Regions from separate parts of the Homo sapiens genome. Here all the other regions are reported to be linked to region 1. Evidence: microRNA targets listed by miRTarBase, many of them from high-throughput screens and not tested one by one. Region 1 holds a microRNA gene; each other region holds the end of a gene's coding sequence.

Region 1 (7,118 bases):
TGTCATCTTAATTGTTAGATAACAGAATTATATAACTCAACATTTCTAGTTTGAACCTATTTCTTTTCTTTTCCTTTTATTTTTAAACTGAAAATGCATTATTGGTTAATATTCTATGGTGTTATATATTCTACATATTCTATTCTTTGTGTTTTTAATAAACTTAAAACTGTATAGTATTGTTTAGTGGTTGACACTAATTTACAGAATAACCTTTAATAAAATTTTATTTACAGATTTTCCTATTTGTATTACCTAGATTAAATTTAAAACAAGGGGCAAAAGACCACCTTAACTTTAGTACTAAGATGTGGAGAATAGATACCTTTGAGAATTAAAAATTTACCTTTTCTCATCTAAATGTAAAGATTTATAAAAGATAATCTTTTGTATTTTGGCATTGAAAGTGACCACACTAAACCCTTGCCTCACTTTAATTGTTAGTCTTATTCATAAAAGTAGAGTTATGAACAGTTAGTTTTAGTGGTTTATGAAATGTAAGTTTGTGTGTTCTACAAATGCTTTATTTTACATTGAGGGTAAGACTTAGCCAAACCTATATAAACGGTCTTTTCCCCCACTTCAGTATGTATGCTCTGGTTTGTAGGCAGTGCCAAAATATACTTCATAGATGGGATTGGCCTTAACTTATTTAAAGAGAAAAAAAAGCAAGCAATCAAAAAAACCCCTGCTTCACCTTGTAAATTCCACCCTTATCCTCCCCCACCAAGAGCTAACCACACTGGTGAAGCACTATTACTATAATTTGGCAAGTGAGTTGCCTCTTAAAATTAGACATCTGTGATTAAATAGTTAAATCATTCCCTAGATATGTATATATTTAGAGCTCCCAGAAAGCTGGTTATCTTTTCTTATAGCTAACACATTTTTAAAAAGCCACTTTTCTCTTGGTGATAAATATGTGTGTGTCATACTGTGGTATAGCTGCATGTCCGATCAAATGGTACTAGTTTCCAATTGACAGTAGCTTTATTAAATCTTTTCTAAGTGATAGCTGAAGCATTTTAAATTCACAGCAAAGGATTCTAAGACGTGTACTTGGAGAAAAGTTGCATAGTCATTTACCTTCTAGAATAATCCTAAAAGTAGGAAACAATAATTGGCCATGTGGTCATGTGCTAATAAAAGAACACCTTGTCCAAGATACCAGGCTTTTTCCTGTTTCAGTGCTTTTTGTTCTGACTCTTGCCTCTCCCTGTGGTGTCCTTTCCCACCCCAGGTATGTACATGATTCTTCTCCTCCTACTTCAGGAATCCACTCAAATGCCAGGCCCTCAGTGAGGCTTTTCCTAGCCACCTTATCGAAAATAGCATTCCTCTTAACTGTTTCATTACTCTATGAAATGACCGTCCATATCTATGGAGGTTTTTTTCAGTCTTTTTCTACCCTTTCCTTAAATCTTAGACTTAAACTTCCGTGAGTGCAAGGATTTTGTTCAGTGTTGCATTCCCAGTGCCTGGAATAAAGCACGCAGAAGTATTTCAGTAAGGTACTGAAAGGTACTTATTGAAGGTACTCAGTAAGTATTTCTGGGGTGGATAAATGAATAGCAAAGAGAACACCAATCCTGTGACTTATTTTGTTACCTTCATTGTATCATGGGAGGAAAGCTTGGAACTGACATGCTAGTGAGCACCTGCTTTGAATATTTATTATAATATGCATTTTCTGTAATTTTCTTTGGTGTTTGAGATATTTGGTAAAATAACTGTATTATCCTCAGTTCGTAACACGAAAGAATTTTTTAACTGCAATTTACTTTACATATGTGCATCATTGCTAGATTACCCAAGTTAAAGTGACAGGAAGCAACAAAAATGCTCCAAGCCACAATAAAATGGTAGATTGGTTTTTTGTTTGCTTGTTTGTTTTTCTCTTGTGTATATTTCCATTTTACTGCAAAACATACCAAATAATTGATTGTAGATTTTGTCACAAGGAATCATGTATGCTGTAGAAGTATAGAGATTTTCCACTTTTTTTGTTTGCTGCTGGATCTCCAGCACCTAAGAAAATATGTGGCACTTTATTTAATGTCACTCAGTCAGTATCTGTTGGATAAGTAAATAAATCCAGAGGTTGTTTAAAATTACGTACATGGGAATATTGTCAAAATGTCAATTCATGATCCAAAGAAAATGTGCAATTGAAATCTGATATCTTCTTTTTTCTTCCACAGAGCCCCTCCCCAGAAGGCAAAGGATCACCCAGCTGCTGGAAGGTGTAGGTACCCTCAATGGCTCAGTAGCCAGTGTAGATCCTGTCTTTCGTAATCAGCAGCTACATCTGGCTACTGGGTCTCTGATGGCATCTTCTAGCTTCTGCTTCAGTGTCCTGAGAGAGATTATTGGGCAGTCTTTAATAATGAAAACTTTACCTTGAATTACACACACACACACACACACACACACACACACACACACACACTCACACACACACTCACACACACACAAAGAGAGAGAGAGAGAGAGAGAGAGAGAGACAGAGAGAGAGGAGAGAGTCAAGTTCTAGGGTGTTAAGTCCAACATTATCAGCTGGGGCTTGGGAACCTTCAAGGTTTTATGAATGATGAGGTCTATTTGCTTTCAATACTACAAGGGGGAGGAATCTGGATATTTATCCATGTTTTAGCTCTTACCTGTTTTTGTTTTACCTCTTTTTTTCTCTTTCCCCCCTATGAAAGGTATCATTTGGATAGATCAATCTATTCATCTATCTACCTACCTACCTATCTACCCCTACCCATCCACCCATTTATCCATCCACCCATCCATCCATCCATCCACCCACCTGCCCACGTACCTACCAGTTTATCTATCCGACCTTCCTTCCATCCAGCTTTTTCATCTCTTGACTTTTAGATGGCATTTTCAACATGATGTCATGATTAAATGATGACAACTTGATGATATGATGGTTTAAGGAAATTTTGTTGGTAGTAGGTAAGTCCCAGCATTTCTGACTGTTGGTTTTCTTTTCCTTGTGGTAGAAAAGACAAATGCCAATTTTGAAATCTTGAATGCAGTAGGCAGTTGTGTTGAAATAGTATGTGAGAATTACTTGCAAGCTGAACATCCAGGTCTGGGGCATGAACCTGGCATACAATGTAGATTTCTGTGTTCGTTAGGCAACAGCTACATTGTCTGCTGGGTTTCAGGCTACCTGGAAACATGTTCTCCATTGGCTGTCTCACCAATGCTACCCCTATAATGTTTCTGAATAACTGTTTTCCAGGAGGTATAAACCAGTGGAGTTTATCATTGAATAGAGTGCAGAGAAAGGACCGCAAGAAAGCTGATCACCTCAGCAATGAATGATTTCAATACGATTTCACCCAAATGGTCTCACACACCAGCCTAGTAAACCAGAGATAAGGTGTAATGTCATCCTTCCTTCCTTCTCCCTGCCTCAACTGTCAAAGATTGACAACTTACATGTTGTTTACTTTTTGGCTTCTATTTCTGTTCATAATTATTATCAGAAGGCATAGCACCCACAAGCCTAATCATACTGCCTTACAACCTTATTCCTCTTCATTTTGTCTTCTCACTTACCTGCAGAAACCCAGTTTATTTTTGTTCTCCCTTTACCACACCAGCCTTGTAACTGTTATGAATGACCCTCAATCTCACTGGAATCTGAATCACTCAGGAATTCAAGCAAACTGGATGTTTTAACCACTGTTCAGCTTTCTTATGGAATGACAGAGAACTTGTAAAGATAAAACACCAGTTTGCAGGAAGAAAGGAAGAGAATGGAAATTGCTTCTGGAAAATACTAGTTTTACAATATGTTTTGTTTGTCTGCTCTCTTAAATAAACTTAATCCTATAAACATTTTTTAAGAACTAGCCATTAAGACTGTTAAGTTCTCAATTATAAAGGAATAAAATGTTTTAAGGAGGATTTATTTGCCCTTGCTTATATGAACTGCATATTTTTAGTAGGAAATCATGTAATTTAAATTAGTATTGGTTAACAGATTTAACGTAGAAAATGGACATATAAAGAATACAAGGATAAATGTCTACATGTAATAATGGATGGTAGTGATATAATGCATTTTTGTCATCCCATGCTGAATTCAGTAAAAATAAAGCTAATGACTTGGAGCTTTTAAAAGATTGTACTGTTCTCTGTGTGTGTCTTTTGGCTTCCTACTCACCAATCAGTTCTATTATCTATTCTGTACCTGAGCCACTGGCTTTTGTGACCCGGGAAGAGAAAGTAATTCCACTTAAGACGTTTGACAGGCTTTTAAGAGAAATAAGTGGCTCTGTGCAACATGGTTATGTTTAATAAATCATAATTACCAAAGGGACAGTTTCTCTTCTCCCATGTCCACTCATACTTTTTTTTTTTTTTTTTTAAAGAGATGAGTTCTCATTCTGTCATTCAGGCTGGAGTGCACTGGTACAGAACTCTTGGGCTCAAGTGATCCTCTCGCCTCAGCCTCCAAAAGTGCTGGGATTACAGGCTTGAACCACCATGCCCAGTCCTCCACTCCTTACTTCTGATGTTCTTTGAGTCCCTTTGCCTATCATTAAATGAGAAGGTGTTGACAGTGGTGCCAGGTGTGAAGAACTCCCTAATTCCATTGATAAGTTTACATTTCCCTCTCAGGTACAAGTATTGGGTTGATCCTCAAAGCAAGATTGAATGTTGTGATAATATAATAAGAAAAAGACATATTTGGTCTTCACCCTCAGTTCCTGGAACAGAGCTGCTAAAACTGTCATAATTTTCTAACTAATAGAGGTGATAGCATCTTTTGTTAAAGTATTTGGTCTTAGTCCCCTGTTCCTGACACAAGAGCTTCTAAGATCCTTGGACTCTCTGGAGTGATGAGTGTCTTTCTGTATGCTAACAAGATAATGAGATGACTTGGCTTAGCGGGGAGTAGAGGTGGTGGCAAGTTAGCTTCAGGATGAAGGCTGGTTGTCAGAAAGACCAAGGTATGATTAGAGGGTTGGAGCTTTCAACATTCAATCCCACCCCTGACCTCTGACAACTGAGTTGATCACTGTCTTAGTCCATTCATGCTGGTATAACAAAGTACCCGCGACTGGGTAATTTATAATGAACAGTAATTTATTTTCTTATAGTCCTAGAAGCTGGGAAGTCCAAGGCCAAGGCCTTGGCACTCAGTGTTGGGTGAGGGCCTTCTTACTGCTTCTTCATATGATGATGAACGGGCAAAAAGAAGATGAATGCTGTGTCTTCACATAGGAGAAGAGAAAGAACACACTCCGTCAAGCCCCTTTTAAAGAGCCTAATCCCATCAGTGAGGCCTCTTCCCTTGTAACCTAATCACCTCTTAAAGCCTGTACCTCTTAATACTATCACACTGATGACTAAGGTTCAACATATGAACTTCGGAGGACACAATCAGACCATAGTGTCTGGCTCCTGGCCCCCCAAATTTATGTTCTTACGTATGAAATATATTCATTCCATCTCAGTAGCCCCAGAGATCTTAACTTGTTCCAGCATCAACTCAAAAGTCTAGAATCTCATGTAAATCAGATATGAGTGAGACTGAAGGTAAGGTTCATTCTGAGACAAATTGCTTTTGTGCTGTGAACCTATAAGGTCAAACAAGTTATATACTTCCAAAATACAATGGTGGAACAACCATAGGATAGACATTTCCATTCCAAAACAAAGCAATAGGAAAGAAAGAAGGAATAACAGGTCCTAAGTAAGTGCTAAAACCAACAAGGTAAACAACATTAAATCTTAAGGCTTGAGAATAATCTAGACACACTGGAGTGGAGGTTAAGCCCCCAAGGCCATAGGGGGCCTCAGCCCCATGGTTTTGTTGGGCATATTCTATACAGCACCTCGCAAGTTGGAGTTGGGTGTCTGCAGCTCTCCCAGGCTAGGATCACACTCCAGTGGCTCTGCAGTACTGGAGTCTCAGAGGCAGTCCCAATCTTATGGCTACCCTGGGCATTGTCCCACTGGGGAGTCTGGTGGCACTATCCCTGTCTCAGTTCTCTGTGTTGGTCCTGAGGCTCTCCAAGTCATCCATTGAAACCTACGTGGAATTAGTCATTCCTCCACAGCTCTTGCGCTCTGTGTGTCTGCAGAGTTATAATGTGGACACTGGGGGCACTAGCCACACCTAGGCATAACCACAGCTGAGGTGGGTGAGGAGTGCTACACTGGAGTAAATGGAGCAGAGATGAGGCATCACTGGGCAGTGAACGCAGAGGTTCTTCGGTTACCCTAAGCCCCTAGTTTTAGTTATGTGCCCCAGGCCTTGGCACTCCGGGCTTGTCATGAGAAAGGCAGCACCAATAGTCTCTGATATGCCTTCAGGGTGTTTTTTGTTTTGTTTTGTTTTGTTTTGAGACAAAGTCTCACTCTGTCACCCAGGCTGGAGTGCAGCGGGACGATCTCAGCTCACTGCAACCTCCACCTCCCAGGTTCAAGTGGTTCTCCCACCTCACCCTCTCCAGCAGCTGGGATTACAGGTGTGCACCACCACCCAGCTAATTTTTGTATTTTTAGTAGCGATGGGGTTTCACCGTGTTCAGGGTCACTTTTCATTGTCTTGATGAACAGTGTATGACTTTCTTCTATCCATACTAATCTCCTTGCAAATGGTCACTTCTTCACACCCCTGGTGTTTTCTTCCAAATGCTTTTGCACTTGGCCAGGCTGAGAATGTTCCAAACCTTTAAATTCTGCTTCCCCTTTGATTTTATTATTTATTATTATTTGAGACAGGTTCTTGCTGTGTTGCCCAGGCTGGAGTGCAGTGGTGAGATTTTAGCCCTCTGCAGCCTTGACCACCCAGGCTTAAGTGATCCTCCCACCTCAGCTTCCCGAGTAGCTGGGAGTACAGGCATGTGCCACCACACCTGGCTAATTTTTTGTATTTTTGGTAGAGACAGGGTTTCACCATGTTGCCCAGGCTGGTCTCAAACTCCTGAGCTCAATAGATCCACCCACCCTTGGCCTCACAAAGTGCTGGAATTACAGGCATGAGCCACCATGCCTGGCCACTCCTCTGAGTTTAAATTCCATCTTCACTATATTTCTCTCCTGCATTTTACTATAAGCAGTTAAGAGAAGCCATGCAGTACCCT
Region 2 (7,118 bases), not on the chromosome of region 1:
TATAAATTTGTGGCCTTGAACAGTGCTTTACTGGCCTTCATGCACTCTGAGCTCTGGGCATGTCTGCCTTCCACTACTGAAGAGCAAGTCTCAGCAGGATGGGGAAGAGGTTTTATTGGCCTTTGGTACCTCCAAGGCTTAGCATGCATCTGGCATGTGGAGGCAGCGGTCACGTTCTTGCTGACCACGCCTAGCTGCTGCTTGTCAGCTGTTAATCAGTCTTATAAGCACTTAGTGCATAGCACAGGCCTCCTTCTAAAAATGAAGGCTCATGTTGAACTGTTTAGCTTCAAACCTTAAAAATGAATGATGAAAGATAGATTCAAGGTGGAGGAAGCTAAGGGTCACCAGGAGTGCTTTGGACCCTCCAGTAATGACTGCAGGCCCCCCGCAAGATCTTCTGGATTGGCTGTCATCAAGATGAGGATGAGTCTCCACTGGATGGACTGGTAGGACATCTCTCATCCTATGGGATCAGTGAGTCATTGTGTTACTGACTTAAGGAGTTAAAAAGAAAATCTTAGGAGATTTGTGAAGTTCATTAAAATAACCACTACAGTAATTGAACATGTAAAGCTAGGTATACATACTGTGCTCAGGGCTTTGTACATACGGCATATATGTATCATATCCAGTGATCAGATGAGGAAGATGAGGCTCGGGGAGGATAGGTTACTCCCCCAGTTCTGTTTTTGTGGGATAAATTGCTTCCCTGTGTTATCTTCAAATATTTTTTTGCTTGTTCTGAGAGGAAAGAATCTTGGAGTGATTTGCTTGATTTTGCTTTTAAAAGGCATGTGTCTCAAACTTGTTGTAGGTGGAAAGTGAGACCAACGTCCTGCAGGACGGCTCCCTCATTGACCTGTGTGGGGCCACTCTCCTCTGGAGAACAGCAGATGGGCTTTTTCATACTCCAACTCAGAAGCACATAGAAGCCCTCCGGCAGGAGATTAACGCCGCCCGGCCTCAGTGTCCTGTGGGGCTCAACACCCTGGCCTTCCCCAGCATCAACAGGAAAGAGGTGGTGGAGGAGAAGCAGCCCTGGGCATATCTCAGTTGTGGCCACGTGCACGGGTACCACAACTGGGGCCATCGGAGTGACACGGAGGCCAACGAGAGGGAGTGTCCCATGTGCAGGACTGTGGGCCCCTATGTGCCTCTCTGGCTTGGCTGTGAGGCAGGATTTTATGTAGACGCAGGACCGCCAACTCATGCTTTCACTCCCTGTGGACACGTGTGCTCGGAGAAGTCTGCAAAATACTGGTCTCAGATCCCGTTGCCTCATGGAACTCATGCATTTCACGCTGCTTGCCCTTTCTGTGCTACACAGCTGGTTGGGGAGCAAAACTGCATCAAATTAATTTTCCAAGGTCCAATTGACTGACGCCCTTGACAGCCATCTACGACTTTATTAACAGGTTACTGTGAAGATTTTGCCACTAACTCTAGATTTTACCTTTTTGTAATGCTGTTTATCAGAGGAGGGTGACAGGGGCTGGAAATAAAGAGAGGGGACATGGTGATGAAACATGGCAGGAGTGTAACAGATACCAGTGGTGTGTTGCATGCTCAAAACAGCAGCGTCGTCATTGAAGTCTGCTTGATTAAACCATAATATCTTTGTAATAATTGGATTTAAAATGCTATGCTTCTATTTTTAACCTTGGGTTTTTAACCAAGTTTTTTTTTTTTTGTAATCTTGGACAAGACTTTAAATCATATTTTACAGATGTAGAAGAAATTTATTCAAAAGTGTGGGCTCATGAAGTTCACTTCAGTGCAGTGTGGTGTAGGTGTTACGCGAAGGGCGCACAGTGTCTAGAAATACTTGATCGTGGCTCAAACCTGACCAGACAGCAGAGGGGCGGCTCTGTACAGTGTGACTGGTGGACAGATGGCCTTAGGCACAGGTGGTTTTGAAATCTGGGGCTTTTTCTGATTTATTTTTCTGACTTGTTGGGGGAGAGAATATTCATAACTTGTGGGCTTTTTTTTTTTTTAACTTCAGTGGAATTTACTTTAGATATTCATTCATCAAATACATGGGACTTCACAAACAATTTTCCATAACTTTTTAGCCTGTCTTTTGTTATTTCTGCCTAATATGATTTGCCCCGATACTCATCTTGCACGGCCAGAACTGTTTGGTTGATTAAAATACATCAGCTCTTAAAAACTCATTAACTGAGGGTAATTACAGTAGTAGACATGGTCTGGGTACTATACTACCATGTTTATTTGCTGACTGAATTAAGATTTAAGAATGATTAAAAATAAGCTTTTACTTTTTAAAACCACTTGAGGTTTCATAAAGCTTGGGGTTTTTTTTTTTCCTTTGTTAAGAAAGCCAACCAATCACAATGATATAGTCATTGTTGTGCACTCCCTTTTCACCATCTGTCACCTTCCCTTGCAGCTTAAGGAGCCCAGTAAGTTTTGAAAATGTTTGCGAATCAAACTAAATTTAAGTGGGATGATTAGATATACACAACACCAAGTGGTACATCTGCAGAGATAATTCAAAATTCCTGCTTTTGAGAGAGCAAATGAGTGTTGCTGAGGAATAATTAAATGAGAATTTCATAGGAGCTCCACCATTCCTGTTACTTTCATTTCATTTTGATTAATAATTCTTGGATGCTTGGCATCGATCGTATCACTGCTCCTAGAAGGTAAAGATCCTTTAGGACATGAGACTGGTAGAAGCTGGCTGAGATAAAATAAGTATTTATTTAAACTAATGTTCTCTTAATTTGACCATTGCAGATTTGGGTGACTTTTTTTTAACCTTTGTACATATACGTAATTTATATGATTCTAATGTACTATATCCATACTTGAATTGGTTTTTTCGTATTTTGCCTACTGGCAAATATTTTGCCTATTTTCAGTCGTTCTAACCTATTTGAATACGCTTTTCCTTAAAGTGATACGATAATATTACTCTTGATTGCTGCTGCTTAATTTGATGTAATATGTTTAAAGTTCAGCCTCTCAGTTTTAATATAGCTTTATTTTTCAGTGGAGATCATTGTTTAGGATGAGACATTTTTGGTTTTGGTTTTGTTTGGGTAAATTTTAAATGGTGTGAAAATCGATGACAACAGTCCTCTTACAGATAGCTTGCTGTATTCTGTATAGCTTACTCTACCTGCAGACAGAAAATGAAAGAAAAAAATGGACTTGCCTAGAATAATATATTGAATGCCTTTTGATTTAGCCAGAGTCTCTGATGATTAGCTTTCACTGATAGAGTATGTCTTTTCAGCCTGTAATTCTTTGGGCCCCAAAGAATGACAAAGGAGGCACTCGTTCTCTTTTCTTGCTGTATGCCTAGAAAGTGGTTGAAGGATTCTTGATGCCCTAAAACCATCTTGTAAGCTAAATGGTCTTGCATCCAGAAAGGCCAGATTTTACCTACCAAGAAAAAAAGATATTTTTCCAGAGAGTTAGGTATATCATAATTTTCCATTTCAAGTCCTGTTTATAAGTCTAGTCATTCTGCAACGTGACATATCCCCCAAAATGAAGTTACCTTCCAAGTTGGACACGTCCCGTAGTTGGGCATATGTCTAACTAAAAGTTTCTGACTTTTAGTAAATTCAGCTTAAATATAAGTTGAAATTTGGGAAATAATTTCCAAGCTCTTGGAAGGGGTAACAGTGAACCGCCCTCCATGGGCTCCACATCTTTTCCTTTGGCTTCCAAAGTCAGGTCCCGCCCACCCTGCCTAAGGAACTGCAGAGAGGTGGCAAATCAGCAAAAAGGACACCAGGCTCTTCTTGGCCACTTGTAGGAAGATCCCTTTACAATTTTGACTAAGGAGATTTTTTTTTTCACAGTTGAGTTAGTTTGTGAAAATAAAGAACTCTGTAGCTCACCAAGGTGGAGAAACGCAATTCAGAAAAGTAATTTCTCCAAGGTCACTTCTTTTTTTATGTCTTGCCATCACTTTAAAGGACTAGCCCCACTCCCCCATGTGTATACACAAGGAAATTGCAGACCAATTAGTTGTCTTGGCCTGACTCTAATGCCTTTTGCAAGTAGCTTTCCAGAAGTAAAAGTCCCAGTGATGTATTCCCATAGAAATATTTTTCAGTTGTTTATGTCGTTTACTACAAAAAAAAAGATTCAGAGTGGATGGAGTACAACTCTGAGTATTTTTCTAGTCCGGAATTTTTTATTAATAATCGGTGCTGCCGGGTCATGCATGCTGCAACTCTCAACATTTCCCTTATTTGGTTCAGCTTTTAGCAAAAAGGGCTACAGTTCACCCTGCAGAGTATTAAGGTTTCTGGATTTTTTTCTCCCAACTGTGGCCCAAAAGAATTAAAATCTGTTAATATAAATAGAGAACATATTTATCATTCCTCGATAGTTAATTATAGACTTTGGTACCTTTGTGCCTCAGGGAAGCCACGTGATATAACTGGTTATAGAATTTCAGGGTTAGGGTTTAAAGAAAGGAGAAAGCCATTGGAAAAATGATGGGCTCCATTAAGGAGACTAATGAATCTGGATGCAGAAATATGTCAGAAACTGGCATAAACATGATTGTAGTAGAATTTATTTTCCAGTACCAATAGGGAAATTATTTTAAGTTATTACATTTACTGTATTGGGAAACTTGAGGAGAACTCTTTAGTTCATAAAGCTTCAATGTCTTTTTTTTTTTTTTCATGGAAAAACTCAAACCTCTGTTATTTGGGAGCTCAGTATTGTGTGGACACTTACGAGAGTTTTCTGCTTAATTGAAGTGTAATATAGGTTGTAGAATTGTTACCTGCAGTTCTATGGTTTTGTTTCACTTCTTTTCTTTTTTAAAGCCATTCTGTTCTTTGGATGTGCTTGAAAGGGTGTGTGATTACACCATTGTTAATGCTGGGTAAAAACTATCTTCTTGCAGCCTTGCCTCATAACAGTGGAATTTCTGATAGACAAACCACAGGACTTTGATTTTAAGCCAAATCCATCTCCATCCCTTTACTGTCAATCTTCTGTCCCAGTAGTTTAGCCTTTGTGGCTTAGGTTATGATGCGCCTCCTTCTGTGCGACCAATGAGACGACTTCAGCATCTTTTTAAAATAATCTAAGCATCATTGAAGCAGTAACACAAAAAAAAGGTTCAGTATTTTCTTTTTAGTATAACTTACATCCTTTCAAATAAGTCTTTGCCCTCATGAAGAATCCCTAGAGGAAGATAAGGAAAATAAGTATTTTCCAGTTTTGCTTGACAGTTTCTAAACAAACAAAAATAAACTCAATGAAAGGAAAGATGTTTCTTTTTAGCTGAGATGACAGATTGCTTCTCTGTATTAAATAGTCTAGAAGTTAAGGGGATGGTCACATTTACCATGTATTGTGTTATTAGCAGTTAAATTTTATGAATATGTTTGTAAAATTGTTGTTTTATATTTCATGTCAAATTGAAAAGTTTATTTCTTCACTATTGTACCTGTGGAAATACAAGCCATTTTACAGGAAAAAATCTTCAAAAACTATTAAATGGATATCAGCCTGTTTGTGAGCCATTGTCTTCAGATTCTGTGGTTGTCACTGAGTTCATTAGGACATTTAGTAGGTTGATACGAGTAGAACTGATTTTTTTCACTTCTCTAACTTCCAAGTTAATCTCCAGCTGTTGAGTTTATTAATTGTTTTATATTCTGCACAATACATATTTAAACCTTGATTCTGAAAATCCCCTACATTTTTTAATTAAAGAAATTTCCTTGGTGCCTATATTACTATTTCTCGTGACATTACATCACTGTCAAATAAAGTTAACTTCCAGGGGAATTTAACCTGACTTGTAGAATTAATGGATTTTTGTCATGATCATTTCAGCCATATTGCTGCTCTTGTGACAGTCTTCATTCACTTTTAACAACATAATAAGGATTGTGTATAAGCCTTCAAGCCTTCCTTGAAGCCTTAAACTAATATATCTATCATAAGAAAATGTATATATTTATGACAAATTTTGTTCTCATCACATTGATATTCAAAGAGTTTTAGTATTATTGAGAGAAACAGATTTTTCATTTCCAGAAAAAAAATGCACATTTATATAGGCTTTTATTTCAGGGGATAAGTGTTCCATACTTTGTCAAATCTAAGATGCCACGAATTGTGAGATGTGTTATAGAAAATCACAACTGGTTATAATTGTAAGTTACATTCCATTGGGCAAGGAATACACCTCACACAGCATACAAACATTAAATCAAAATGGGTCAAAGAGCTACAACTATAGAACTCTTAGAAGAAAACATAATGTAAACCTTTGAAAACATAATGTAAACCTTTGTAACCTTAGATTTGTCAGTGATTTTTGACATACCAAACGTAAAAACACAAGCAACAAAAGAAAAAAGGCCAGGCACAATGGCTCACGCTTGTAATCCCAGCACTTTGGGAGGCCGAAGCAGGCAGATCACTTGAGGTCAGGAGTTCAAGACCAGCCTGGCCAGCATGGTGAAACCCCGTCTCTGCTAAAAATACAAAAATTGGGCGTGGTGATGGGCGCCTGTAATTCCAGCTGCTTGGGAAGCTGAGGCTGGAGAATCGCTTGAACCTTGGAGGCAGAGGTTGCAGTGAGCCGAGACCGCACCATGCACTCCAGCATGGGCGACGAGCGAAACTCCGTCTCAAGAAAAAAATAGAAAAAATATATAACATTGGGTTTCATCAAAATTAAAGTTTTGTGCATGGAAGGACGCTGTCAAGAGAGTAAAAAGACAACTCACAAAATAGAAAATATTTAGGGATTATATATTTGATAAGGAACTTGGGTCCAAAATATGTAACAGGCTCTTACAACTCATCAAAATGCAACCTCTTTAAAAGACGATCAAAAGTTTATAACTTTTCAGAACATTTTCCAAAGAATGTATTAAATGGCCAGTAAGCACATAAAAACATGGCTCGACAATTAGCCATCAGGGAAGTGCAAATTAAAACCACACAATACCACGTTATACCCACTAGGATGGCTAAAGTCAAAAAGACAATAATGAATGTTGGCATGGATGTTGAAATACACTCATAAATTGTTGGTGGGATTGTAAAATGATGCAGCTGCTTTGGAAAAAATAGTTTGGCATTCCTCAAGAGGT
Region 3 (7,118 bases), not on the chromosome of region 1:
AGCTCCGGTGAGGCCCAGGATGGAGAACAGGGCAGGCGACCAGGCAGGAAGTGGGGGACGGGGGACAGGAGAGGGGAGGGCAGAGGGACAGATGTGGAGACGGAGGGGTGTCCAGCGTGGAATGAGGGTGTGCAGGGCCAAGGCTGCAGAGACCCAGGGACCCCGCTGACGCCTCGACTCCCGCCTGCAGGAGCCCCAGCCCCAAGGCTTTGACAACCAGGCGTTCCTCCCTGACCACAAGGCCAACTGGGCGCCCGTCCCCAGCCCCACGCACGACCCCAAGCCCGCGGAGGCACCGATGCCCGCAGAGCCCGCACCCCCCGGCCCTGCCTCCCCAGGCGGTGCCCCTGAGCCCCCCGCAGCGGCCCGAGCTGGCGGAAGCCCCACGGCGGTGAGGTCCATCCTGACCAAGGAGCGGCGGCCGGAGGGCGGGTACAAGGCTGTCTGGTTTGGCGAGGACATCGGGACGGAGGCAGACGTGGTCGTTCTCAACGCGCCCACCCTGGACGTGGATGGCGCCAGTGACTCCGGCAGCGGCGATGAGGGCGAGGGCGCGGGGAGGGGTGGGGGTCCCTACGATGCGCCCGGTGGTGATGACTCCTACATCTAAGTGGCCCCTCCACCCTCTCCCCCAGCCGCACGGGCACTGGAGGTCTCGCTCCCCCAGCCTCCGACCCGAGGCAGAATAAAGCAAGGCTCCCGAAACCCAGGCCATGGCGTGGGGCAGGCGCGCGGGTCCATGGGGGTCCCATTCACTCAGTCCCCTGTCGTCATTAGCGCTTGAGCCCAGGTGTGCAGATGAGGCGGTGGGTCTGGCCACGCTGTCCCCACCCCAAGGCTGCAGCACTTCCCGTAAACCACCTGCAGTGCCCGCCGCCTTCCCGAGGCTCTGTGCCAGCTAGTCTGGGAAGTTCCTCTCCCGCTCTAACCACAGCCCGAGGGGGGCTCCCCTCCCCCGACCTGCACCGGAGATCTCAGGCACCCGGCTCATCTCAGACCTCCCGCTCCCGACCCTACACAGAGATTGCCTGGGGAGGCTGAGGAGCCGATGCAAACCCCCAAGGCGACGCACTTGGGAGCCGGTGGTCTCAAACACCTGCCGGGGGTCCTAGTCCCCTTCTGAAATCTACATGCTTGGGTTGGAGCGCAGCAGTAAACACCCTGCCCAGTGACCTGGACTGAGGCGCGCTGGGGGTGGGTGCGCCGTGTGGCCTGAGCAGGAGCCAGACCAGGAGGCCTAGGGGTGAGAGACACATTCCCCTCGCTGCTCCCAAAGCCAGAGCCCAGGCTGGGCGCCCATGCCCAGAACCATCAAGGGATCCCTTGCGGCTTGTCAGCACTTTCCCTAATGGAAATACACCATTAATTCCTTTCCAAATGTTTTAATTGTGAGAGTATCTGATATTCTTGACTGAACAATGTAAAAAACCCAAAGGGGGCTGCGCACGGCGGCTCTCGCCTAAATCCCAGCACTTTGGGAGGCCGAGGTGGGCAGATCACCTGAGGTCGGGAGTTCGACACCAGCCTGACCAACATAGAGAAACCCCGTCTCTACTAAAAATACAAAATTAGCCGGGCGTGGTGGTTCATGCCTGTAATCCCAGCTACTCGGGAGGCTTAGGTAGGAGAATCACTTGAACCCGGGAGGCGGAGGTTGTGGTGGGCCAAGATTGTGCCACCGCACTCCAGCCTGGGTAACAAAAGCGAAACTCCATCTCAAAAAAAGAAACGCAAACGGTGCAGCTGCCCCTTTTTCGAGGCACGTCCACCTCCCATTACCCACTTCCTTTTTTTTTTGAGACTGAGTCTTGCTCTGTCCCCTGGGCTGTAGTGGAGTGGCTCCATCTCGGCTCACTGCAGCCACTCCCAACGCCCTCCACTCCTCCCTACTCCGCGCTGGCCGGGGCGGGGTTCCGCTGGTCGCATCCAATAATAAGAACAGGCGGCGCGCGCCCTTCCCGGAAACTCCCGCCTGGCCACCATAAAAGCGCCGGCCCTCCGCTTCCCCGCGAGACGAAACTTCCCGTCCCGGCGGCTCTGGCACCCAGGTACTGGGGACCCCAGACCCACGCGGTGCAGGCCGGGAGCGAGAGCCTCCGTGGGGGCTCCGTGACCCCGGAGGGGTAGAGCCAAGAGCTGGGGGAGCCTGAGAGATGAGGGTCGGGCGGGGAGGGAGGCGGAGGCGGAGGCGGGGTTCCGCGGAGCTGAGAACCGGACGGGGTGGGATCGAGGAGGGTGCGAAGCGCCACTGTTTAGGTTTCGCTTTCCCGGGAGCCTGACCCGCCCCTGACGTCGCCTTTCCCGTCTCCGCAGGGTCCGGCCTGCGCCTTCCCGCCAGGCCTGGACACTGGTTCAACACCTGTGACTTCATGTGTGCGCGCCGGCCACACCTGCAGTCACACCTGTAGCCCCCTCTGCCAAGAGATCCATACCGAGGCAGCGTCGGTGGCTACAAGCCCTCAGTCCACACCTGTGGACACCTGTGACACCTGGCCACACGACCTGTGGCCGCGGCCTGGCGTCTGCTGCGACAGGAGCCCTTACCTCCCCTGTTATAACACCTGACCGCCACCTAACTGCCCCTGCAGAAGGAGCAATGGCCTTGGCTCCTGAGAGGTAAGAGCCCGGCCCACCCTCTCCAGATGCCAGTCCCCGAGCGCCCTGCAGCCGGCCCTGACTCTCCGCGGCCGGGCACCCGCAGGGCAGCCCCACGCGTGCTGTTCGGAGAGTGGCTCCTTGGAGAGATCAGCAGCGGCTGCTATGAGGGGCTGCAGTGGCTGGACGAGGCCCGCACCTGTTTCCGCGTGCCCTGGAAGCACTTCGCGCGCAAGGACCTGAGCGAGGCCGACGCGCGCATCTTCAAGGTGGGGACCCCAGCCCCGCCCCGCCCCGGGTGGGAGAGCCCGCCTAGGACCCCGCGGGCCCGGCACACGTGTTCTGTCCCCCTCTTCAGGCCTGGGCTGTGGCCCGCGGCAGGTGGCCGCCTAGCAGCAGGGGAGGTGGCCCGCCCCCCGAGGCTGAGACTGCGGAGCGCGCCGGCTGGAAAACCAACTTCCGCTGCGCACTGCGCAGCACGCGTCGCTTCGTGATGCTGCGGGATAACTCGGGGGACCCGGCCGACCCGCACAAGGTGTACGCGCTCAGCCGGGAGCTGTGCTGGCGAGGTGAGCGACGCCGGCTGCCAAGGGCGTTGGCATTCGTCCTGCTTGGGCAAAGGGGAACATTCTCTGGGTCAGATTTGTGGTTTTAGAAGCTGTTCTGGGAGAGGCTGCCAGCAGGCCCAGGACAGGTGGAGAGCCACATCCCCACCTCCTCAGGCCACAGCCTAAGGGTTCACAGCCAGGAAGCTGGTGGGGGCTACACCAGGCTCTCCTTGTATCTCTCACTCTGGTGTCGGGGCCTAACGCCTGCCCCATTCTCTCTCAGAAGGCCCAGGCACGGACCAGACTGAGGCAGAGGCCCCCGCAGCTGTCCCACCACCACAGGTACCCTTCTCTCTGCCTGCCTCTCCTCCTGCCAGGCCGCGGAGCTGCTTACGTTCACCCTGACTTTTCCCTGCAGGGTGGGCCCCCAGGGCCATTCCTGGCACACACACATGCTGGACTCCAAGCCCCAGGCCCCCTCCCTGCCCCAGCTGGTGACAAGGGGGACCTCCTGCTCCAGGCAGTGCAACAGAGCTGCCTGGCAGACCATCTGCTGACAGCGTCATGGGGGGCAGATCCAGTCCCAACCAAGGCTCCTGGAGAGGGACAAGAAGGGCTTCCCCTGACTGGGGCCTGTGCTGGAGGTGTGGGCGTGCCCGGGGAGGGGGGGAGCGCGGGAGGGGCCAGTGCACCTGGACGGACACTTTAGAAGGGGGCTGGGGATTGGGGAGCTGGAGAATTAGGAGGGGACCACCGTTCCCACTGTCCTCCCCTCCTCAGGCCCAGGGCTCCCTGCTGGGGAGCTGTACGGGTGGGCAGTAGAGACGACCCCCAGCCCCGGGCCCCAGCCCGCGGCACTAACGACAGGTGAGAGGGGTAGGGGTTGGGAGGCCTGGGGCACAGGGAGAGGCTAGGGATGAGGTGCCAGCACAGGATTCCCTTCCGGATGCAGGCGAGGCCGCGGCCCCAGAGTCCCCGCACCAGGCAGAGCCGTACCTGTCACCCTCCCCAAGCGCCTGCACCGCGGTGCAAGGTGAGTGCATCCCAGGAAGGGGCAGCCTGTCCCCGCCCACCCCCGTCACTCACGGCTTGTCCCCGCCCACCCATCACTCACATCCTGTCCCCGCCCACCCCCGTCACTCACATCCTGTCCCCGCCCACCCCCGTCACTCACAGCCTGTCCCCGCCCACCCCCGTCACTCACAGCTTGGTCTCCACACAGAGCCCAGCCCAGGGGCGCTGGACGTGACCATCATGTACAAGGGCCGCACGGTGCTGCAGAAGGTGGTGGGACACCCGAGCTGCACGTTCCTATACGGCCCCCCAGACCCAGCTGTCCGGGCCACAGACCCCCAGCAGGTAGCATTCCCCAGCCCTGCCGAGCTCCCGGACCAGAAGCAGCTGCGCTACACGGAGGAACTGCTGCGGCACGTGGCCCCTGGGTTGCACCTGGAGCTTCGGGGGCCACAGCTGTGGGCCCGGCGCATGGGCAAGTGCAAGGTGTACTGGGAGGTGGGCGGACCCCCAGGCTCCGCCAGCCCCTCCACCCCAGCCTGCCTGCTGCCTCGGAACTGTGACACCCCCATCTTCGACTTCAGAGTCTTCTTCCAAGGTCAGTGAGGCCCTTGCCTGGGGGGCTGTCTCCAGGGGTCCTTGGGAGCACCTGCCTGCCAGGTACTCAGCAGAGTCCCCTTCTTCAGAGCTGGTGGAATTCCGGGCACGGCAGCGCCGTGGCTCCCCACGCTATACCATCTACCTGGGCTTCGGGCAGGACCTGTCAGCTGGGAGGCCCAAGGAGAAGAGCCTGGTCCTGGTGAAGGTGAGACCAGAGCCTCAAGGAGGGGAGGCCATGTGCTCAGGCCCACTGACAGACGCCTGATGCCCTCAGAGCCTCGGAGAGGGGGAGGGGAGGCCATACACCGGGTCACTGACAGACGCCCGACGCCCTCAGAGCCTGGGGAGGGGGAGGGGAGGACACACGCCGGGTCACTGACAGACGCCCGATCCCTCCTGGCAGCTGGAACCCTGGCTGTGCCGAGTGCACCTAGAGGGCACGCAGCGTGAGGGTGTGTCTTCCCTGGATAGCAGCAGCCTCAGCCTCTGCCTGTCCAGCGCCAACAGCCTCTATGACGACATCGAGTGCTTCCTTATGGAGCTGGAGCAGCCCGCCTAGAACCCAGTCTAATGAGAACTCCAGAAAGCTGGAGCAGCCCACCTAGAGCTGGCCGCGGCCGCCCAGTCTAATAAAAAGAACTCCAGAACACGTACTGGCATCTTGGCTGGTGGGGAATTGGGTCCAGGCTGAACACGGGTGAGGCCCAGGGAGGGAGGGGACCTCCACGGCCTCCCTGCACACCAACTCACTTCTGTCTTCACCACACACATCACAGCCAAGCTTTGACTCAAAGAACAAGACCCTTGACAGGCCAGTGGCCGCCAAAGCCACTCCCACCAGCTGTGCCAAGGGCAGGGACAGCATTTCCCCATGCAGGACACCTGTCGCCAGCCCTCAGGCTGCCACTGCTGCACCCTGCCTCCAGGAGGCAACGGTGTTGAGTGCAAACTCGAGCAATTATTTACAAGAGCACAACATAATTGGAAAAGAGAAAGTAAAGATATTCCTAATTCAGAGCCAAAGGTACACAGCAGCTGTTGGCGGGAGGCCACCTAGAGATTTATCAAGGACGCGCCACCCCACCAGGAGCCCCTCTTGATCACCAAGTGCTTTATCTTCCAAGTAGTAAGTCAATCAAGAGGTTTCTAAAGATAATCCATTTTTGATAAATTAGAATGGAAACAGTGTCTCTATAATATACATACAAAAGTGTCCAGTTTTCAACTGTGAGCAACACAGGTGCACAGACCAGGTGTCAGCGCAGGAACCCGACGGCAGGCATGGTGATGCCCCCCATTTCCCGCCACTCCCGACAGCTCCCCGGGCATGGCCCCGATTCCCGCCACTCCCGACAGCTCCCCGGGCATGGCCCCGATTCCCGCCACTCCCGACAGCTCCCCGGGCATAGCCCGTGATTGCCTGGCCTCAGCCCTCGGCCCCCTGCGTGGGCGGCTCCTCCCCGGCCTCTGGTTTCTTGTGCCTGCGCATGTGCCTGTACTTGTCCACGTACGCCTTCACCAGGTTGGCCACCTTCACGGGGTTGATCTCTCCACTCTTGCTGTGGCAGATCTGGAGAAAGAGGTGCAATCACCAAATGCCCTTTCACATCCAGATGTTCCGGGCCAGAGCCCAGGGCCAAAGCTGGGCTCCCTCGCCTGCCCTGCTCAGGAGCAGGCCCTAGGTGCAGCACGCAGACAGACGGCGGCAGAGGCCGCCCCACCTATGTGAGACCCCCGTCCTGTTCGCTATGCCGCTCACAAGGCCACTGAGGGTCCCACGGTGTCGGTGGGCGGGGGGAGCATGGGCTGAGACGTCACCAGGCAACTGCTCACCTCTGGGGGTCGTTCTCCCACCTGTAAGCTGGGCGTGGGCTGGGTAGTTTTAAATTACCCAGGGTGCACTGAGGCACCCTCCTTCCTAAGCATCTGCCAGGGGCAGCCACAGGCGAACAGGCTTGACCCCAGGCCTACAGGATGTGGCAATACAGCCCCCTGACCCCTAACCTGGCTGGCTGACCTCGGGCCTGCACTCATGGCCACCCCAAAGTCCATGCTGACGAGACAGCAGCGACGTACCGCCCGTGACCCCGAGCCCCACACACAGGCTCGCACACAGCCCACCTTCTGCACGGCCTTGCGCAGGATGTCCTTGTACTCCTCCTTGGTCACCTCCCTCTTCTGGTAGAAGGGCTTGATGGCCAGCTTCACCTCCTCCACAGCACGCTCCTGCATGTGCAGCTTCTTCATGTACTAGAGGGGACATGTGTGTGATGCGGCCAGGAAGGGAGCCGGGAGTCCCTCTGGCCAGAGGCACTGTGGTTCTGGACACCCTTGCAGTTCCAGAGGCACAGCGACCAGCTT
Region 4 (7,118 bases), not on the chromosome of region 1:
TTACTGGATATGTACCCAAAGGAATATAAGTCATTCTATTTTAAAGATACATACACATGTATGTTCATTGCAGCACTATTCACAATAGCAAAGACATGGAATCAACCCAAATGCGCATGATAGACCGGATAAAGAAAATGTGGTACATATACAACACGGAATACTATGCAGGCATAAAAAGGAATGAGATCATGTCCTTTGCAGGGACATGGATGAAGCTGGAAGCCATTATTTTTAGCAAACTAACACAGGAACAGAAAACCAAGCACTGCATATTCTCACTCATAAGTGGGAGCTGAACAACGAGAACACCTGGACACAGGGAGGGAAACAACACTCCCTGGGATGTTTTGGAGGAGGATGGTGGGAGGAGAGCATTAGGGAAAAGAGCTAATGCGTACTGGGCTTAATACCTAGGTGACGAGTTGGTTTGTGCAGCAAAGCACCATGGCACACGTTTGCCTGTGTAACAAACCTGCACATCCTGCACATGTACCCTGGAAGTTAAAAAAAATTATTATTAAAAAAATTTTACACATCATTCAGCTTCCTCAGGCTCCACTGTTCAAATTTTACTTCTCTCCTCTCAGCCTCCTTTAATTCTTAACTGCCACCCTCAGAATAAATTTAGAGAGGCCCTTTGAAAATATCTAATTCATTCTTCCCAGTTTAATGGATGAGGAAACAGAAGCCCAGCAAGGGCAAGGCTTACCCTCTTGGGAGACAGGTATCATCAAAGTTCTAGAAAAATTGCAGTGATCTTGTCTAGCCTCCCTCAGCCCCGTGGTGAGAGCAGCTCTTTGGGAGCCACTGTGAATAGCAAACATGGTGGTGGGGGAGAAGTGTCAGTGGCCTCAGGCTCCATGTCACTTTCTCTATGCAAAACAATGGAGAGTCATTTGGTACCTGTGAAAGGCATCTCCTGGCTTCCCAGGCTCTCAACCCAGCTTATTGGTCACATTGCTTTACAAGAGGGGCTGCTGGCTCACCTTGTCAGCGCCTTGGTATAACTTGGGCCACCAGTAGGACAAGAGTTAAATGGGTTCAATCAAGTCTTAAGCCATTCTCTCCATGTGCCACTGAAGAATCAAGTCCCCTTGTCAGCACTGTCCCCCCTGCTAAGCTCTGTCTATATTTTCCTTGATTTGAACAAATGAAACCTCATTTTCATGTGTTCAGTCCTGCTTAGTGGAGGACTATTCACACATGAAGTTGCTTATTTTTTGCTTACATGGTGGCTCACGCCTGTAATCCCAGCATTTTGGGAGGCTGAGGCAGGTGGATCTCCTGAGCTCAGGAGTTCGAGACCAGTCTGGGCAACATGGAGAAACACACTCTCTACAAAAAATGCAAAAAATTAGCCAGGCGTGGTGGTGTGTGCTTGTGGTCCCAGCTACTTGGGAGGCTGAGGTGGGAGAATCGCTTGAACCTGGGAGATTAAAGCTGCAGTGAGCCAAGATCATGCCACTACACTCCAGCCTGGGTGACAGAGGGAGACCCTGTCAAAAAAAAAAAAAAAAAAAAAAAGAAATTGCTTATTTTTGATTCTGGAAATGTTACCCCCCCAAAATCAGGGTTTGTTGGTCCGATGAATAACAAACCACGCTCCTTGAGAACGCAGGTGTGTGATCAATAGGAGTTTTATTACTTGGCACAAGGAAGAGGGGCACTGGGATTATTCTCCAAAGCAGTGTCTCCCAGAGGGAATGTGACAGGAGGGTTTTAAGGGGTAATGGAGACAGGAGGGACTGCGTCGCATGCCGAGGAGGGGTCCCAGTGGCACCAATGCAGTGAGTCCTCATGCCAGCACATAGGTCGCATGTGGTTGCTGCTGAAGCTGCTCTTCCCCTGGGGTGGAGACTATAGAATGGCCATGAGGAAAGTTCACCGAATTCATCTAAAAGTTGTTGGGGCCTGTCAGGAGCTGCTTTAACCTGCTGGGTGACCACGCAGGGTCTAGGAAGAAACAGACTGCAGGGCACGAGGCTGCAAAACAGGCTGATTGCTCAAGTTGATTAAATTCCTAGAATCCCCAGAGACCCTCCCTGTCTGCTTATGGAAATATTCTAGAAGACAGGGTGAATTTGTTCCAGATGGTATTCCCTCTGAAAGAATCTGTTAGCCTGGCAAAGAGTAGATGACAAGGTTGACTCAGGGTTACTCCGTTGTACCACCAGCTGCTTCTTGGCCTTACCACCCGATTCTAGAAAGAGAAGCAAAACTAGCTGGTAGTAAGACTGAGACGCCCACCTGTTTTCACATTTTCTCTAGTGGAAACTTGAAGTTGTTCCTTCTGCCTAAAAGGCTCCTCTCTCTCTTCTTTCAGTTCTCTGCCCAAGTACCTCCTTCTTCTTGACCACTTTTCCTAAAATATCACCTTTGGCCAGGTGTGGGAGCTTTCACCTCTAATTCCAGCACTTTGGGAGGCCAAGGTGAGAGGATCACTTGAGCTCAGGAGTTCGAGACCAGCCTGGGTGACATAGTGAGATTCTGTCTGTTTAAAAAAAAAAAAAATTAGCTGGGTGATGTGATGCATATCTGTGGTCCCAGCTACTTGGAAGGCTGAGGCTGGAGGATCCACTGAGGTTGGGAGGTTGAGGCTGCAGTGAGCCCTGATCATGTCACTGCACTTTAGCCTGGGTGACAGAGTGAGACCCTGTCTCCCAAAAACAAAACAAAAACAAAAAACACCTTTCTTCCTCCATCCCTTGATTTCTGGCTTAATCTTTTTCATTTTATTTGTACATGATCACAGGAGATTATTTAAGTTCCACACAGAATGGGCCTGGATGGTATTGTTTTTCATGGTGCCCACAAATGTGCTGGCAAAATGTCAGACGCTCAAAAACATACTGGGTGAACGATCTACACAATGAAGGGAAGGATGGTTGCCAAAGCACCCTGACAGCACCTCCCGCAGCCTCCACGGTGGAGAACCAGCTGTGTGCTCAAAGCCACACCCCTCCTTGGTGAGGGCGTGTGTCCAGATAAGAGCCAGATTGGCGAACGGGTAGAGCAGGGATGTGTTAAAGCAGTTTCTGCCTTACCTTCACAGAACTCACCGTCCTCCTGGCATCACTTGAGTAATCTAGAAAAGACTTCATCCATTCAATGGGGACTTATACTTCCTTTGGGGATTGGGAGGATTAAACATGAGTCTGGTAGGTCAGAGGGCTTGATACAAGACAGAAGTGCTTTGAGTGTGTTCTCTGTGGTGCAGTTGCTGGGCTGGTCAGTGGTAAGTTTAGGAAAAGTTTAGGATAAATTCTTGCCCACAGCAGCAACTCCTGAGACTTGCTGTGGCAGAGAATGACCCGCAGGGCAAACGTGGATCCCAGACTGATGCAGGACTCTCTTTCCATGCTCTCCTGAACCTTTTTTTTTTTTTTTTCTTTGAGACAGAGTCTCGCTCTGTCACCCAGGCTGGAGTGCAGTGGCACCATCTCGGTTCACTGCAAGCTCCGCCTCCCGGGTTCACGCCATTCTCCTGCCTCAGCCTCCCGAGTAGCTGGGACTACAGGCGCACGCCACCATGCCCGGCTAATTTTTTGTATTTTTAGTAGAGACGGGGTTTCACCATGTTAGCCAGGATGGTCTCGATTTCCTGACCTCGTGATGGGCCCACCTCGGCCTCCCAAAGTGCTGGGGTTACAGGCATGAGCCATCATGCCCGTTTTTTTTTTTTTTTTTTTTTTTTTTTTTTTTTAATTTAAGAGACAGTCTCGCTCTGTTGCCCAGGCTGGAATGCAGTGATGTGCTTTTAGTTCACTACTGCCTTGAACTCCTGGGCTCAAGTGATCCTGCTGCCTCAGCCTCCTAAGTAGCTAGGACTCTAGACATGTTGCCACTATGCCTGACTAACTTTTAAAAATTTTTTTGTAGACATGGGGTCTAGCTATGTTGCCCAGGCTGGTCTCGAACTCCTGGCCTCAAAGCATTCCTTCCACTTGGCCTCCCAAAGCACTGGGATTACAGGCTGTCTTGAATATTTCTATAGCAAAAAGGAGTTTGTATTTTTAAAGGAGGAGTTTTGGCTTCGTTCTCTTGATAGGGGAAAAGTAGAGTTTTAACTCCCAGCAACCGAATCCTAATCCTCAGGCAGGAAATGTTTTGCATATAAGGCAGTGGAGAATCATTGGGATGGGGAGAAAAGCAAAACACACAAAAGTTTTGTGTGTTTTTACCAAAGCTTCCCTGGAGATAGAATTATGATGCAGCCCAGACTCACCATTTGCCAGGAGCCCAGTACCTGTACGGTGTCTGCTAGGTGCTGACTTCTCAGGTCCCTAATTGCTGCCTTCGGAGGTGTTAGTGGAAAAGAGCCCTGTTGCACTTTCTCCCTTTTGGCTCTGTACCCTCGAGCAAGTCCCCAAGCGCATCTCGGTAGCAGGCACTCAAAGGTCTGAATATGAGCCACCAGTTGGGATTGAAATTTGAGTGAGACAGTCCCAGCGAAAGCCTTGCAACTCCAAGTGTGGTCCATGAGCCGGCAGCATTGGCATCTCCTGGAAGCCAGTTAGGAAATCTTTTCAGGGCCTCACTCCAGATCTACTGAATCAGAATCTGCATTTGAAAGAGATTCCAAAGTGATACCGCCTACACGTTAAAGCCTGGCTTCAGAAAGAGAGAAAGAAGTGATTCCAGTACCAAATGGCAAGGGAAGTGAATCTCTGTCATCCCTTCCACTCTAACAGGCAGCATGTGCTATTAAGTTAGCCTCACTATAGCTATTATCAGTGCTTGCTGAACTGAATGAATGTTCCTACCTCTGAACGGCAGGTTTTAAAGAAGAGATTCAGTTCGGTTAAAGGTACCCTTAAATCAACCACTTGGAATTGAAGCCAGCCCTGCTGGAGACCCAGTCCCCTTCATGGAACACATAGCTGCCTTCCTGTGATTCTAAACACCACTGCTACAAAGGAAAAGATTTCCAGTCTCACCTCAAGTGGAAACTGGTGCTTCTCGTTTTCTCAGCAATAGACTTGGCTTTGCACAGAAATGGCATGAACCTAAAACCAAAGCAATCAGGGACTTAAGTGGGGCCCGTTGGCTTTTTTTAGTAACCTTATGCTAAGAGGTGCAAAGATTTGAGTGCTAGATTTCAGACACAAGTGCCGAGGCAGCCAGGAAATTGTTAGTAATGAATGTTTAAACTCCCAAACGTTGTACTGAAGACAAAAGAGCTTTTGTGGCTATACTGAAACTATTGTTTTAAAATTTTATTTATAAATAAAAGATATATACATATGTGCTTTAATATGATTAACAGGTTCCATTTTGTACAAAATGTTAAACCTAGAGTCCTCTGCGTCCTGGATGAGGCGTCCAAAGGGTGGAATAGTACAGCATTAGGACCTTTGTTCTCCTCTTGGCTTCTGGAAGAGAAACTCTTGCATGCCCTCGACTTTCACCGCAAAAATAAGTGAGAAAAAAGATAAATCCCATTTATGCAATGATATGTAGCTATGAGTTAATCACGGTATTTCATTCCATGAAATCCATTAAGCTGCTGGCATTTGCATGGCTCTAAGTTTATTTTAAGAGGCTCATTCAAACATGGCCAGGAATATATTGGCCTCTTGAGAGTTTGCATGGCAAGGAGTTATACAGCAGGAAAAAGAAAAAAAACCCAATAATTATATTGATGCAAGATTCATCAGTATTTTAGAATATTGTCGTTTCAACATGTTAAATTGTTTCTGAGCACTGCTGATTTCAGCACTGTCCCTGGTCCACGTGACGCAAATGCCACCCTTTCCATATATTCTTCAGCAAAAATATATGAAAAGCCCGTCACTCCCTAAGAGGACCCTGATCCCTCTGGAGAGGAAAACTAAACTCTTTAAGAAGAAAACCAAACCCAACCTGAACTAATCGTCCAAGGAGTCCTGTTTGGTCCCACGAAAGGCAGATTTCCATCCACACCAGTGAGGGGCAAGTGTCCGGGTTCCAACTCGAAGCCAGGCGGGCCTGTGCGGGGGTGAGTCCTTTGCCACCCGGCGCCCCCCAGGCTCTACAAGCGTCTAGAGGTCGGAGTCGCAGGGCAGCGAGCTGTCGCAGGGGTGGGTGCTGCACGAGGGAGCGTCCTGGGACTCCCACCCCTCCCCGTCGAGGACGTCCACCGAGTTGGTGTAGGCCTTGGGCCGCGGCCGCGGCATGGGGAAGCCGACCTTGGGCTTGGGCTTGGGCTTGCGGTGCTGGGCAGGCGGCGGTCGGTGCTGGCCGTCGCTGTAGTACTTGATGGCGGGCGCCAGGTCGGGCTCGGGCCACTCCACTTGGATGGTGCTGACGCTGCTGCGGCGAGGCCCGGCGGAGGGTCCCTTGCGGCGGCGGCGACAACGCTCGTCGCACCAGGGCGCGAAGCTGAGCGCCAGCGAGAAGCCGCCCAGCAGCAGGAGGCAGCTGCCCAGGTAGCCCAGGACCAGGCTGTAGCTGACCTGCACCGTGACCGGGCTGGCCGGGGCGGGCAGCACGTCGCGGTCCCCCAAGAAGTGGTTGTACCAGGACACCGGGATGAGGCCGAGGAGGCCAGCGACGAAGAGCACGACGCCCGAGAGCCCTGCCAGCACGAAGTTGGGCTCGTCCTGCCAGCAGCGCACGCCCAGCGACGCCAGCAGAAGCCCCAGGACCGTGGCGGCCAGCGAGGTGACCATGAGTGCCCGCGCCACCAGCACGGGCTGGGCCTCGAAGTAGCCCCACTGGTCCGTCTGGCCGCACTCGCGCTCGCGGCTGCTCTGCTCGCGACACATGTCCCACAGGCCCTGGTACAACTCCACGTCCACTGGCTGGTTCAGGAAGCCCTTCACCAGCCGCCAGCCGGGCGCCAGGGTGCCGGTCAGGTTGAGCAGGAGCCCGCAGGGCGCCAACACCATGCCCAGCGTCATCACCACCGGCGTCCGCATCCCGGCCCGCCGCGCCGACGGCGCCCCTGCAGCCTGCCTTCCTTCTCCGCTGTCGCCTTCTCCGCCGTCGTCTTCTCCCTGCCGTGCCCCAGGCTCCGGGGACCCGAAGTCAGCGCGGACGCCCCGGGCTCCGGGTCGGGCTCCTGAGCCCTGATCGCTCCAGGGACGCTCTTTGTCTCCTGCACGGGGACCGTCCCCACTTAGGCTAGTTCCCTC

The links. The annotated mature microRNA hsa-miR-222-3p reads AGCUACAUCUGGCUACUGGGU and lies in region 1 at 2,301-2,321, shown strand. An mRNA with a match to its seed (bases 2 to 7 or 8) in the 3' UTR can be bound and repressed. Matches are read on the target gene's strand: a 7mer-m8 pairs with bases 2 to 8, a 7mer-A1 pairs with bases 2 to 7 and ends in A, and an 8mer does both.
Region 2: the mRNA of PELI2 is a reported target of hsa-miR-222-3p. The part of its 3' UTR that is shown has no 7-base or 8-base seed match.
Region 3: miRTarBase lists PHRF1 as a target of hsa-miR-222-3p. The part of its 3' UTR that is shown has no 7-base or 8-base seed match.
Region 4: the mRNA of CLDN23 is a reported target of hsa-miR-222-3p. The part of its 3' UTR that is shown has no 7-base or 8-base seed match.

What each region holds. Positions count from the first base shown.
Region 1 is chrX:45,742,239-45,749,356 of GRCh38, reverse strand. It overlaps MIR222 (microRNA 222), which reads left to right and starts at 2,233; the gene lies at 2,233-2,342. It overlaps MIR222HG (miR222/221 cluster host gene), which reads left to right. Exons shown (of 2, transcript NR_170290.1): 2 at 1-4,143. MIR221 (microRNA 221) reads left to right here and starts at 3,091; the gene lies at 3,091-3,200.
Region 2 is chr14:56,295,783-56,302,900 of GRCh38, forward strand. It overlaps PELI2 (pellino E3 ubiquitin protein ligase family member 2), which reads left to right. Exons shown (of 6, transcript NM_021255.3): 6 at 818-5,742. The coding sequence ends at 1,384. Among named protein-coding and RNA genes, the nearest start is that of LINC02284, 12 kb to the right of the region's middle. RefSeq lists an enhancer at 1,067-1,566.
Region 3 is chr11:610,843-617,960 of GRCh38, reverse strand. It overlaps PHRF1 (PHD and ring finger domains 1), which reads right to left. Exons shown (of 18, transcript NM_001286581.2): 17 at 6,879-7,007; 18 at 5,739-6,327. The coding sequence ends at 6,184. IRF7 (interferon regulatory factor 7) reads left to right here and starts at 2,011. Exons shown (of 11, transcript NM_001572.5): 1 at 2,011-2,048; 2 at 2,314-2,616; 3 at 2,702-2,864; 4 at 2,954-3,164; 5 at 3,427-3,485; 6 at 3,562-3,787; 7 at 3,924-4,010; 8 at 4,096-4,176; 9 at 4,366-4,755; 10 at 4,844-4,962; 11 at 5,161-5,406. The coding sequence starts at 2,597. The coding sequence ends at 5,316. CDHR5 (cadherin related family member 5) reads left to right here. Exons shown (of 15, transcript NM_021924.5): 14 at 1-7; 15 at 191-1,378. The coding sequence ends at 610. RefSeq lists enhancers at 2,555-3,149, 3,744-4,338, 4,933-5,527.
Region 4 is chr8:8,702,183-8,709,300 of GRCh38, reverse strand. CLDN23 (claudin 23) reads right to left here. Exons shown (of 1, transcript NM_194284.3): 1 at 5,205-7,118. The coding sequence starts at 6,902. The coding sequence ends at 6,024. Among named protein-coding and RNA genes, the nearest start is that of CLDN23, 3.8 kb to the right of the region's middle. RefSeq lists an enhancer at 6,571-7,118 and a silencer at 7,012-7,118.